2 separate regions of the Homo sapiens genome follow, and region 2 is linked to region 1. The links come from fine-mapping of genetic effects on gene expression. A gene starts in region 1. The other region holds a variant in brackets. All regions are shown on one strand. Distances are between the middles of the regions.

Region 1 (2,912 bases):
AAAGAAAGAAAAACTTCTGTGAAGTGTAAATTTTTTTCACCATCCACTCATGTTTCAATTGACCTATTTCTGTCATCGCAGTTATTAGATAGTCGTTGGTAATAAGTTTCTGTAACTGGCATTTCACCTGTTTTTCTGGTATCATATTAGTTCCTCATGCAGAACACTCCCCGCTGTCACAAGAGAAACAAATGATAATCACTTCCCAGGAAAGATAACAAGCTCGATAATTTAACATACGCCTAGTGTCTCCAGGTGGAGATTATCACCACCATTACCAATACCAAGCTGAGATTTCTCTTTCATTGTTCTTTACCTGAGACTGACTTCAAGTTCCTAAAATGAGTTGAAAATATAAGTTAGAATACCAAGTAAGGGATATTACATGAATAAATGTTTTGCTGAATGAATTGGACACAATAATTGACTATATAAGCAGGAGAGTTGTTTTTCCATGGGAACGACTGATTGACCTTTGTACTCTTTCTTTAGCCTCTCCTCTATCTTCCTTGGCATGGTCCTATCTGGATTAGTTCTCTTTTGTCCCTGGCAGACTGAAAAACCAACTCTAATGCCTCAGAGTGAGGCAGGAGAATAGGGAATTAGGGTAACCAAGAATGAAGGCATAAGCAAAAGAACAGCAGGTGCAGCTAGTTCTAGGCAAGATGAGGCAGCACACAGGCCACGTCCTCACTCCTGTGGTAACAAGACAGAAGTCTCCACTTCAGCCTCTGATTGGTTGTGCACCAGTCCTTCATAGGATTGGAGGCCTTTAAAGAACTCTTGGGGTATTATAAAATTCTAGCTTATTCATGGCAAAAACCGCAATTACTTTTGCACCAACCTAATAAAACCCTAAAAAACATTGTAATCGGGGTTCTTGAGCCGCTTGGTCGCCTGCTCCCACACCTACATTCCACTTCTGTGGAGTGTACTTTCCCCTCAATAAATCTGCGCTTTCATTGGTCCGTTCTTTCGTTGCTTTTTTTGTGTGTTTTGTTCACTTCTTTGTTCAATGCGCCAACAACTGGACAACTCACAGCCAAGACATTCTATCCGGTAACAAGAGTGCATTCATGTGAATTATAACAGAGTAATGTTTATCAGCCTCTGCTTCCAGTGCAAGCATTCTGTGTCTAAACGATTGTATAAAGTGATACACGAATTTGGATTTGTAGCCTTTGGGGGCCTTCACAGTATTTTTAGCGCCTGGGAGCTTGAATTTACAGAAATGTGAATTAATATTTTTGCAAACACTTAGGTGGTCAGTTACAAACAGGGATTCCCCAGGAATCTCAATATGGCCTCTAAGGAGGGGCGAGACCATCCTCTGCCCTAAAAGGGTACGCGCTTTAATGAACCCCCTGAGGTAGGGCTGGGACTTCCCTGCAGAAGCGCCTTTGGGAAGCGGCAGCTTTACTACCTTGGAACCTGGGGAACTACATTACCCAGAAAGCTCTACATTGAATGACAGCGCAACAGAACCAGTAAGGGCTCAGAATAAAGGCGTTTCTGTGTGCGCACGTAACGTAGTGGCGGGATTCTCAGCGTTCTCTGGTAGCGACCATTTTGGTTAATGTTGGGTGTGTTTCTGCGGTTTGTGAGGTGAGAGGCGCTGGAGCTATGGGTCCGAACCGCGGTGTCTGAACCCAGAAGGTGAAGAGTCCTTCTTGCTGCACAGAGGCAGATCTTAGGCCCCGTAACGGCGCCCGCCGCTCCCGGCAGTGCTTTCCCCGCGTACTCGGGATGGCGGCGGCCGCGCTGAGGCTCCCGGCTCAGGTAATTGTGCCTTCCCTGCCCTCAGGTCACCTCATCCTAACCCGAATCCTGAAGCAGCGAGAGAGCGGCGACTGTTCACAGGTCTGCAGCCCGGACCCGGCGTCGGGACACTGAGGCGTTCGCGGGAGAGGTCCTTGTTTCTGACACCTGTGGGATGCGGTGGGGAGAGCGACAGGCACAGGGACCGGCGCGGGCTATGGCCTGGAGGACAGACCCGGGAGGATGGAACCTGGGGTCCACAGGCGCCTGTAGGGAACAACGTGTGAGGCGAAGCTTCTCCTGGAAGAGCAGGCTGGGGGCTGTGTATTCGCTGTGAAGACGCTAGAAGCCATGGAGAGTTTCGAAGAAAGGAGGGATGCGATCCAAGTCCAGGCTTTTAAGGTTTCCCAAAGGCCAAAGGAAGAACATAGTAGAGGAGATGAGGACCTTAGGGTTCTGGGAGGTTGACTCCTTTGTTGATAGATCACATAGGTGGTAGAGATGACATTTTGCACTGAGACACGCAGGTCAACCAGTCTGAGGTCACCTGGCTCCAGCGATAAGAAAAGGTTCAAGGAGACCTGAGCTTATCAGATCCCCTTTGTAACGTCTGCTTTCCCCTCAGACACTCCTGGCTACAAAAGCACGTAAAGAACCCACTGAGGGGGTCGGGCAAGGTGGCTCCCACCTGTAATCCCAGCACTTTGGGAGGCCGAGGCGGGCGGATCACCTGAGGTCGGGAGTTCGAGACCAGCCTGACCAACATGGAGAAACCCCGTCTCTAACAAAAATACAAAATTAGCCAGGCGTGGTGATGCCGCATGACTGTAATCCCAGCTACTCAGAGGCTAAGGCAGGAGAATTGCTTGAACTCGGGAGGCAGAGGTTGCGGTGAGCCATTGCACTCCGGCCTGGGCAACAAGAGCGAAACTCTGGCTCAAAAAAAGGAACCCACAGAGGGAATTAGAGGGTGTTCCATTCCCTCACTGGCCTTATTCCCCATTCACATGTTCTCTAGCTTGTGATGTCCTGGGACTCTTACTTGCCATTTTTTCAGTCCTTTGATCTGAGAACACTGGAGAAACCCTAAACCCAGAATCCTAAGTCCATGACACAGGATGTATGGAGGTATTCCCATTTCTGTCAACCCATGT
Region 2 (2,912 bases), 24 kb before region 1:
AGACATGTTCTGCTGTCCTTGTGAGAAGAGGATGAAATTGATTATTTAAAACTGATTTTGTAGAAGTTCTTTTTTTTTTTTTTTTTTTTGAGGCGGAGTCTTGCTCTGTTGCCCAGGCTGGAGTGCAGTGGCATGATCTCAGCTCGCTGCAAGCTCTGCCTCCCGGGTTCACGCCATTCTCCTGCCTCAGCCTCCCGAGTAGCTGGGACTATAGGCACCCGCCACCACACCCAGCTAACTTTTTGTATTTTTAGTAGAGACGGGGTTTCACCGTGTTAGCCAGGATGGTCTCGATCTCCTGACCTTGTAATCCACCCACCTCAGCCTCCCAAAGTGCTGGGATTACAGGCATAAGCCAATGCACCCCGCCTGTAGAATTTATTTTATTTATTTATCTTTTTTTTTTGAGACAGAGTCTCCCTATGTCACCCAGGCTGTAGTGCAGTGGCGAAATCTTGGCTCACTGCAACCTTTGCCTCCTGGGTTCAAGCAATTCTCCTGCCTCAGCCTCCCGAGTAGCTGGGATTACAGGCGTGCACCATGACCCCTGGCTAATTTTTGTATTTTTAGTAGAGACGGAGTTTCACCAGTTAGCCAGGCTGGTCTCGAACTCCTGACCTCAATTGATCCACCCGCCTCGGCCTCCCAAAGTGCTAGGAGTACAGGTGTGAGCCACCGCTCCTGGCCTTTTTTTTCTTTTTTCTTTTTTTTTTTTTTTTTGAGGCAGAGTTTCACTACGTCACCCAGGCTGGAGTGCAGTGGTGCAATATCAGCTCACTGAAGCCCCAACCTCCTGGGCTCAGTTAATCCTCCCACCTCAGCCTCCTGAGTTGCTGGGACTACGGTGCATGTCACTATGCCGGGCTCATTTTTGTTTGTGGTTTCTTTTTGAGATGGAGTCTCGCTCTGTTGCCCAGGCTGGAGTGCAGTGGTGTGATCTTGGTTCACTGTAACCTCCGCCTCCTGGGTTCAAGTGATTCTCATGCTTCAGCCTCCCGAGTAGCTGGGATTACAGGCACATGCCACCACGCCTGTCTTATTTTTGTATTTTTAGTAGAGATGGGGGGTCTCACCATGTTGGCCAGGCTGGTCTCGAACTCTTGACTTCAAGTGATCCGCCCTGTTCAGCCTCCCAAAGTCCTGGGATTACAGGCATGAGCCACTGCGCCGGGCTAGTTTTTGTATTTTTAGTAGAGACAGTTTTCACCATGTTGCCCAGGTTGGTCACAAACTCCTGGGCTTAAGAGATCTTCCCGTCTTGGCCTCCCAAAGTGCTGGGATTATAGGTGTGAGCCACTGAGCCCAGCCTAGAAGTTCTGAGATTCGTGGGTACCTGTTTAAAAAATTCTAGAGAGAAAACTATAGAGAGTGTAGTGTGTGATTCAGACATACTAACCATCCTCACATGGACTCACTCTCTAAAAACTCCAGACATAGCCAGAAAGAGGCAGAACAGCCACAGCAGGAGAGATCACTGATGCTCACTGAGGCAGAGGACTTTGTCATAACCTGTAGAAAACATTTTCCCAATGTCTCTTTACCACATTGGATTATAAATTTTCTACATTCTTCTTCTTCTTTTACTGGGCATTTATACAACTTGAATACAAAATATGGGAAAATAATTTTAAAATTTAATTTTCACCATCCTTGTCAGACAAATAACATTCATTATGAATCCTCTGAAAATTCCACTGTTGGTACCTCTATTTTTCCAGGCTTTTTCCCT[C/T]ACCCCTTTTGTCTCCATTTTTATTCCTCACTTATTACTATCTCAATAACATCATTTCTACATTTTAGTTATTATATCAAAAAGAAGCAAAAATATTAAGAAGAAACTGAAGGAAGAGCAAAACTCAGTAACAGAAAACAAAACAAAGAATGCGTCACATAATGGAAAAATGGAAGACTTGTGAACGCAGACGACAGAGGTGCCGGCTGAGGCAGAGGAGAAACTATGGGGGTGCTGGGAGACTGAGCCTGTGGGCGTGGCTTGCTCCCAGAGAACCTTATGGAAGAGGACATCAAAGAAAGAAATGCCAGACCTGTATCCCAGAAAATAAAGCCACATGATATAGCAACTCTTGCTTATTGGCTCTCATAGTTGATGAATAATTATAACTTAATTGGAAAATAGAATAGAATCCAACTTTGTTAAGGGTTAAGAGAACTTGTCAGGATTTTCTTCTCTTGCTCCTGACCAGAAATACCGCACAAGTAGTTTTGGGGGGCCATCTCCCAGACTAGCCAGGGAATAGCTTTCATGAAGCAAAACTTTCCTGGTGAGATTACCTGTCAGCTCCATACCTTGTTTCCTTTGTACACATGAGGAAACTGAGGATGTTAAAATAAATATGACTCCGGATTAAAACACACTCATCATTAGTCAGGCATGGTGGCATGCGCCTGTAATCCCAGCTACTCAGGAGGCTGAGGCAGGAGAATCGCTTGAATCCGGGAGGCGGAGTTTGCAGTGAGCCGAGATCGCGCCACCGCACTCCAGCCTGGTTGACAGAGCAAGATCCTGTCTCAAAAATTAATTAATTAAATAAAATAAATAAATAAAATAATTAAATAAAATAAGTAAAACACACTCATCCAGGCCAGTCATGATGGCTCATGCCTGTAATTCCAACACTTTGGGAGCATGAGGCAGGCAGATTGCTTGAGTCCAGGAGTTCAAGAGCAGCCTGGACAACATAGTGAGTCCCCGTCTCCACACAAAAAAGAAATACACACTCATCGCCGTCAGGTTCCAGCTCTCTTGAGGGAAACAGGCCCACAGGCAAGGAGCTAAGAAACACGGCCAGAGGTAGCAAGTGGACACCAAGGGCTGTGGGAATGCAAAGAGGCAAGAGTGAGTGAAACGGTGCGGCTGTTTTGGAAAACAATCTGACGGTTCCTCAGAAAGTTAA

The links. PIP is the estimated chance that this variant, and not a neighbour inherited with it, causes the effect.
Region 2: its variant is the best candidate, but not a certain one, in a credible set for the expression of ZNF418 in whole blood (INTERVAL, PIP 0.50).

The regions. Positions count from the first base shown.
Region 1 is chr19:57,934,028-57,936,939 of GRCh38, reverse strand. ZNF418 (zinc finger protein 418) reads left to right here and starts at 1,538. Exons shown (of 6, transcript NM_133460.3): 1 at 1,538-1,779. RefSeq lists enhancers at 1,571-1,660, 1,253-2,135.
Region 2 is chr19:57,957,603-57,960,514 of GRCh38, reverse strand. It overlaps C19orf18 (chromosome 19 open reading frame 18), which reads left to right. Exons shown (of 6, transcript NM_152474.5): 6 at 1,798-2,078. The coding sequence ends at 1,913. Among named protein-coding and RNA genes, the nearest start is that of ZNF256, 11 kb to the right of the region's middle. The variant C/T (reference allele first, on the strand shown) is at 1,730.